2 linked regions of the Homo sapiens genome follow. The protein of the gene in region 1 purifies or fractionates together with the protein of each later gene. This does not show direct contact. Each region holds a gene or a part of one and is shown on either strand. Other genes may lie near its edges.

Region 1 (3,655 bases):
CCTCATAATTTGGTAACTTCTTTGGCCAAGTGACGAAAGTTAAAAATACACGGCCACAAACTCTGGCGTGGAGTTTTTCTGCTTTTCTTTCTGTTTTTGACAATACTTTCACAAGTCACCACCTCGTGGTTTGTTAGACATCACCTGATCTGAAGTCTGACTTCTCTATTCATAATCTCGATTTCTCTTTTTCCTTCCTGGCGTACCCACTATGCCTTCCCCTTCCCTCTTTGTAGTTGCTAGGCAGCCATAATAGTACTCCTAGACATGTGTCTTTGGCATTAATGTTGGCCACACTTAATTTATGCCTCTTTTTTTCCTCCAAATGACAACAGCCATGCTTTAAAACTAGATGTTTTCCTTTCTGATTAACTGGTAACGTTTATGTGGAAATCTGAAGACTTTGTGATGTCTGTCAGAAACTCTGCAACCCAATTCAGTGATCTGAGTTTACTATCCCCTAGCTTTTAAGCTATCACCTGTAAATAAAATGTCTGTTTACACTTTGAAGAAAACACTTCTTGATTTCATGCAGTTAAGATTCACATTGCACTCCAGCATGTTGCAGTTAATGGCTACTGTATGAAATTTCAAGATCATGTAATGTTTCCAAACCAGCTGGCATTCTGAGCCGAGTTTATTATGGCCATACACAATTTCCTAGGAGCCATGATGACTACGGCCTTGCTTAAAGACACAAATGTCTTCATCTGACGTCCAATTTTAGAAATTCGTTACTTCATCTCACAGTCACCTTCATATTTAAAAAATTACATTACAGCCCTGAGATTTTATTTATAAATCCACTTTTACCTGATTGATTTCTAAAGTCACATTCTTAGATTTCTGTTTTTGGTGGAAAATTGTTAAGTGAAGGATTTTACTGCCATGCATTTATTTCATCAGTAATAAGCGGCATTTAATCCTGAGACATTTCTTATTTAAGTGAACTCTGGCATGGCTCAGTATATCCTGAGGAGATTAGTAAGAGAATCCAGTTTAAAATAACTGCTTGGCCAAAGGGAAAAAAGAAAGAAATGCAGCCACAGAATCAGGAAATTATAGTGTTGAAGGAATGACAGCTGTTTTGGGTAACTCTACAACTCATGGATTTTTTCTTTTAGGGATTCAGTGGTTGAGTTTTTTTGCCCCACCCAAAGGTTTTTCTTCTGTCCTTTTTGCTTATTTTTCTTCCTTTTCTTTTCTGATCCATTGCTAGACAGCTTATTTTTCTTGATGTTTAGATTGTTAGTTGATTTCACAGCCTTTCCCTCATCCACTAGATAAATGCAATCTAAAAATGTAATTAAACTCCAATCTTTAGGGCAGAGGAGAACTATTTTTCCCATTGAAATAATTTGATTATTTCTTTTTTCATTCTGTCTCTTCTCTGGAGAAAAATTATTGTTTTTACTTGTTGGCTTAGAACTTGCTCTAAATGCCAAATTTTAAAAAGGAAAACTTTCCAGGGAAGTTTAGCAGAAGTTATGCACCAAAAGGATGTGTATCCTGGCTCAGGAGTCAGTGGACTTGTGCTGTTCAACACAATTCTCAACTCTGCTGCCAACTTTTTGGATGACCTTGGCCACTTAATTTCTCTAGACCTCACTCCTAGTGCCTGTAAAACAGATAGGTTAAGCAGGTGATTTCTAAGGGCCTTTCCAATTCTAATATTCTATGGCTCTGTCCTCTGAAAGAATCACAGCGCCAGTCTTAGATTTCTCTCACCGTTCTCCAGTATGACAAGGTGTATTCCATGCAGAAAATGGTTGTAGAGATTCCAGTGTTTACACAGACAGTAGGTAGGGGACAAGTCCTGTGCTGCTTCTTCAGATTATCAGATTTTTATTTGGTTTGTACTGGTCCCAGATTATTATCAAATACAGAGAAGTTTTGGGATTTGGGGGAGGGTGAGGTGGAGTGGATTGTTGAGTAGCACAAATCCATATTTCCTTATAGCTTTGGGTTACTGGTGGTTCTAATGCCCATCTTGGTTTCATTTTAGGCTTTGGGCGTTGCCTTGTATATAAAAATGCTAAATGTACGTTGAAACGATACACCAATCAGACTTTTGATAAAGTGATGGGGCCCATGTTGGATGCTGCTACAAGGAAACCTATCTGGCGACATGAAATCTTAGATGCAGATGGTATTTGTTCTCCAGGTAAAAGCCTTTTAAAAGAAAAAATTTTAATACTTTTTGACATCATATGTTATTCAATAATATTTCTGAATATTTGGCAAAAAGGGCAGAAAAAAGTAACAACCTATAAAACCACCATCCAAACTCAACCAATGAGGTCATTTTTGATGAATTTCCTTCCAGTCTGTTTTTCTATACACTATGTTTTTACCTATCAGTAATCTATGCTAACTATAATTTTCTAGTTATAATTTTGAATAATAGAAAAGCCACTTTAAGGAAATATTTAGAGTAGTTTATGTCCCTGCATCTGCACTGGTATTTCTTCATTTACACATTTAGCTTACAGACTACTTTAGAATTTTATCCCCCTGCAAAGGTATGACTCCATTATAATTACAAACTTGTAATGCATTTTGTTGATGAAACAAATAGCCCTTGCCCTTATGGGTCTCACAGGCTAGTGCAGGAGACTGACATTGATCAGAGGATCATGCATAAATCCAGGTTAAGGAATCATATAGGTAACTATGAGGCCATTTTATAGCAAGAGAATTTGACCTTGTTGGGAAGATCAGCATGGCTTTCCCGAGGAAGTGAGCTGGAATCTGAAGGATAGGGAAGAGTTAACTAAAGAAGAGGATCAGGGAGCATGTTCTAAGTAATGAGAAAAGCTTGTGCAAGGGTCCCAGAGCTTGGTAGTTGAAAGGTCTGAAAGAAGACCAGCGTGGCTAACAAGAAGAGAGTGCAGGGAAGCATGGTGCACATGAGTTGGTGGGTGACGCAAGGGGTAGGGGCCAGAGTAAGCAAGTCCTTGCAACCATGTTAGTATTGTCTTTATTTTATTTTATTAATTTTATTTTTGAGACAGGGTCTCAGTCTGTCACTGAGGCTGGAGTGCAGTGGCACAATCTCAGCTCACTGCAACCTCTGCCTCCCAGACTCAAGTGATTCTCCCACTTCAACCTCCTGTATAGCTGGGACCCATAGGCACGTGCCACCATGCCTGGATAGTTTTTTGTATTTTTTGTAGAGATGAGGTCTTACCATCTTGTCCAGGCTTGTCTTGAACTCCTGGGCTCAAGTTCTCCACCCACCTCGGCTTCCCAAAGTGCTTGAGCCACCATGCCGAGCCCATGATACTATTTTCATTATGATCCTAAAAGCAATGATATATTCAGATATGTGTTTTGAATGATCATTCTGACTACAGTGTAGAAAAAGGATTAGAAGGGCACTAAAATAGAAGGTAGACCTGGTACCAGGAGCTGTGGTGAAGGTGGAGAGAACCCAGTTTGTGAGGAGGGAAATCCACATGACTTTGTCATGGTTGGCCTGTGGGCGGTGAATGCTTTATCAAGCTGTGGTTCCAAAGAGACACAGAGTACGCGACTTCTCCTCCCTCCCTCTGCCTTTGTTTCTTGGAGAATTTTTCTCACCCTAACACTGGTCAGTATGGCTTGGAAAATACGCGCTGTGACAGTACTACAGGTAGTTGGTCTTTGAACTTAC
Region 2 (3,755 bases), on another chromosome or scaffold:
TTTTTTGAGACGGAGTCTCGCTCTGTCACCCAGGCTGGAGTGCAGTGGCGCCATCTCAGCTCACTGCAACCTCCACCTCCCTGGTTCAAGCGCTTCTCCCGTCTCAGCCTCCTGAGTAGCTGTGATTACAGATGTGCACTACCCACACCTGGCTAATTTTTAAATTTTTTTGTAACGATGAAATCTCACTGTTGCCCAGGCTGTTCTTGAACTCCTGGCTTCAACTGATCCTCCCAGTGTGTTGGGATTACAGGATTTAGGCACCATCAAAATTATCTTCTAGCTGTTTTGAAATGTACAGTAAATTAATAACTATGCCACCCTGATCTATCCAACACCAGTCTTACTTCTTCAAACTGTATTATCTGTGCCCACTAATCAACCTCTCTTCATCCTCCCCATCCTTCCTAGCCTCTGGTAACTACCAATCTATTCTTTATTTTCTTGAGATCCACTTTTTTAGCTCCTATGTGAGACAGAACATGCAATATTTGTTTCTGTGCTTGGTTTATTTTACTTAACATAATGACCTCCAATTCCATCCATGTTGCTGCCAATGACAGGATTTCATTCATTCTTATGGCTGAATAATACATTTTCTTTAGCCTTTCATCTATTGATGGGCACTTAGGTTGATTCCATGTTTTGGCTATCGTGAATACTGCTGCAATAAACATGGGAGTGCAGGTATCTTTTTGATACATTGATTTCTTTCCTTTTGGAGATATATATATACCCAGTAGTGGAACTGCTGGAGCATAGTTCTGTTTTTAGTTTTTTGAGGAACCTCTGTAGTCTTCCACAGTGGCTGTACCAATTTACATTCCCAACAGTGTACCAGGCAGGGCTCTCCTTTTTCCACATCCTCACTAGCATTCATTCTTTCTTCTTGATAAAAGTAATGAATTGGGGTGAGATGTTATCTCATTGATTTTGATTTCCATTTCTCTGATTAGTGATGTTGAACATTTTTTGATGTATCTGTCGGCCATTTGTGTATCTTCTTTCGAAAACTACCTATTAAGATCTTTTGGCCATTTTTAAGTTGGATTGTTCTTTTTGCTATTGTTTGAGCTCCTTATATATTCTGGTTACGAATCCCTTGTTAAGATAGTTTGCAAATAAAGCATCCTCATCTTTCAAACTATACATTGTCACTCTCTGTGTTCCCTTCCCTGCCTGACCCTTTTCCCTTTCTGGCCTCTCTGTACATAGTGTTTACTCTTCTACTGTAGCACCCCTAATACTTCCTGGTACTTATGTACTTATTTGTCTCCTCCTACTAGACTGTATGCTCAAAATTTATTAATCTTTATATCCCCAAGGCTTACCCCAGTACTTAGCACAAAACAGGTGCTTAGTAAATGATGGTGACTGGCTTGAGGGCAGAGATGGTGTCTTATTTATCTATCCTTGTATGTTGTGTTTAGTATGGTGGCTGGCAATTGTTTGACACTCAAGTGTTTAAACAATTAGAAAACACATTGGTGAGAGAAAACTGAAGATATTATAAAACATCTAACTGCTTTAAATGAATTAAAGCTGCTGGGACAAATTATATCCGTGATACTGAGAGAGAGAATTTAGCGTTGCCAGTTTTAAGGAACCATGGAGAAGAGGAAGGCGCTAATTTACTGTGTGCTTACCATATGCCAGGCATTGAGCTAGCTGTTCTACATACACAGTTTCAGATGTGTTAGAAGCCTGGAGCTGGCAAATGTGGCTTCAGTCCACAGATTCTAGTGTGACTGCTTGGGACAATCCACCTGCTAACCCTGAAAATAATTTTTTCTTCTACTCTGTGATAGTCTTTCACATTCCCTACACTGTGTGTGTTAAAAATTACAGTTCATCAGCCTGGGCAACACAGGGAGGCCCTGTCTCTACAAAAAAATAAATAAATAAATAAAAAATAGCTGGGTATGTGTGGTGCATGCCTGTAGTCCCAGCTACTCCAGAGGCTGAGGTGGAAGGACTGCTTGAGCTCAGGAGGTCAAGGCTGTAGGGAGCTGTGATTGCGCTATTACACCCCAGCCTGAGTGACAGAGTGAGATCCTGTCTCAACAACAACAAATTATCTATCTATCTATCTATCTATCACCTATCTCAACAAAATAAAGAACAGGCATAGACATCTGAAAATAAAATTAACTTCTTAGGAAGTTTCCTATTGCCAGGGATATAGGTAACCATAGGTGTGGGTAACTTCTTTATGGGAACAGATGCATCTGATAGATGATTAACCTTGTTGATTTAAGGTTCTTCCCACTGCCAAGATTTGATGAGGGGAGACTACAGCAATGGATCTAAATATGCCAAATTCTTTCAGGTGTATCCTGGGCTGCAGGGGATAGAGAGGGGGGTTTAGTTGAAGACTCTGCGACTTATCCCACTGCAAATAATGCATCCAGGCACCTCCTTTATTTTGCTTTCCATCCCCCCAGATCTTCTGAGGAAGATGCTTCTTCTGGATCACTGTCTCTTCATGGTGCACTCAATGTAAGACTCCAGCAGGAAGATGGTTTCGTCCACCTGGATCTCACTGGCATCCAACCTGAGTGAAAAGTAAAGGCATTTGCCTAGACTGAATGTTCATTAGCATATTTAAGATTAGAGGTTAGGGTGGGTGTGGCCATGGATAACTGCTTGGTTACCCTTGAGAGTGGATGGAAAGAAAGCAGGAGAACCAGTAGATCATTTTGCTATTTACCGAGCATCTTTATGTGCCAGACACCATGCAAACTGCTAAGAATACAAAATACAGAGCCTCTGTCCTGGGGGAAGGTAGTCTTCATTTGCAATCAGGAAAACGAACGTAAAGGCACAGGTATAAAAGGACCTAGTGTGTTTTAAAATAGCAAGAAACTAAGAGTGTCTGAAGCTTAAAGTGAGTGGTGATTAGGAAGAAATGGAAGCTTCTTCAGCCTGACAAAAGCCATCTAGGAAAAACCCACAGCTAACATCATACTTAATGGTGAAAGACTAAAAGCTTTTCTCCTAAGATCAGAAACAAAACAAAGATGTCTGCTTTTGTACTTCTATTCAACCTTTTACTGGAGGTTCTAGCCAGGGTAATGGGGCAGGAAAAAAAAAAAGTAAAGGCATCTAGATTGAAAAGACAGAAGTAAAACTCTCTCTATTCATGGATGACATAATCCTATTATAAAAAATCTCAAAGAATCTGCAAAAAAACTACTAGAATTAATAAATGAATTTAGTAAAGTTGTGGGATACAAAATCACAACACCAAAGTTGGTTGTTTTTGTATAACACTAGCAATGAACAATCTAAAACTGAAATAAGCGACCACTAAACTAGTATCCAAAAAAATACTTAAGAAATAAATTTAATGAAAGAGGTGCACAAATTGTGCACTGAAATGTGAAGGTCTAGGAAAGAGGTGATGAAGGCCTGCGTGTGGACCAAGATGAAAGGCCAGATTTGAGACACATGACTCAAGTAAAATTAAGCCAGCGCAGTGGCACTTGCCTGTAGTCCCAGCTACTTGGGAGGCTGAGGCAGGAAGACTGTTTGAACCTACGAGTTCAAGGCCAGTCTGGGCAACACAGCCAAAACCCCGTCTCTTAAAAAAAATTTATCAGTACTTGATGAACAAGAGAGTGTATATGGTGATGGAGAAGAAGCTCAGAACATCTTCAGAATTGCTAGTTTACAAAAATAGGTGGATTAAATTCTGTTAAGTGAGCTGGAGGAGACAGTGAGTTTAGGTTTGCTCATGCTAAGCTGGAGGGTTA

The links. Proteins that work in one complex are often made in the same cells at the same time.
Region 2: the proteins of POLR3B (region 1) and POLR3C fractionate together in Homo sapiens (co-fractionation; 4 studies listed by BioGRID and IntAct, with this or other methods). This does not show direct contact.

Annotation. Positions count from the first base shown.
Region 1 is NC_000012.12:106,455,133-106,458,787, forward strand, and holds part of POLR3B (DNA-directed RNA polymerase III subunit RPC2), read left to right. Parts: intron 1-2,005; coding exon 2,006-2,164; intron 2,165-3,655. UniProt on the Homo sapiens protein: Catalytic core component of RNA polymerase III (Pol III), a DNA-dependent RNA polymerase which synthesizes small non-coding RNAs using the four ribonucleoside triphosphates as substrates.
Region 2 is NC_000001.11:145,841,138-145,844,892, reverse strand, and holds the end of POLR3C (DNA-directed RNA polymerase III subunit RPC3), read right to left. Parts: intron 2,555-3,755; coding exon 2,473-2,554; 3' UTR 491-2,472; downstream 1-490. UniProt on the Homo sapiens protein: DNA-dependent RNA polymerase catalyzes the transcription of DNA into RNA using the four ribonucleoside triphosphates as substrates.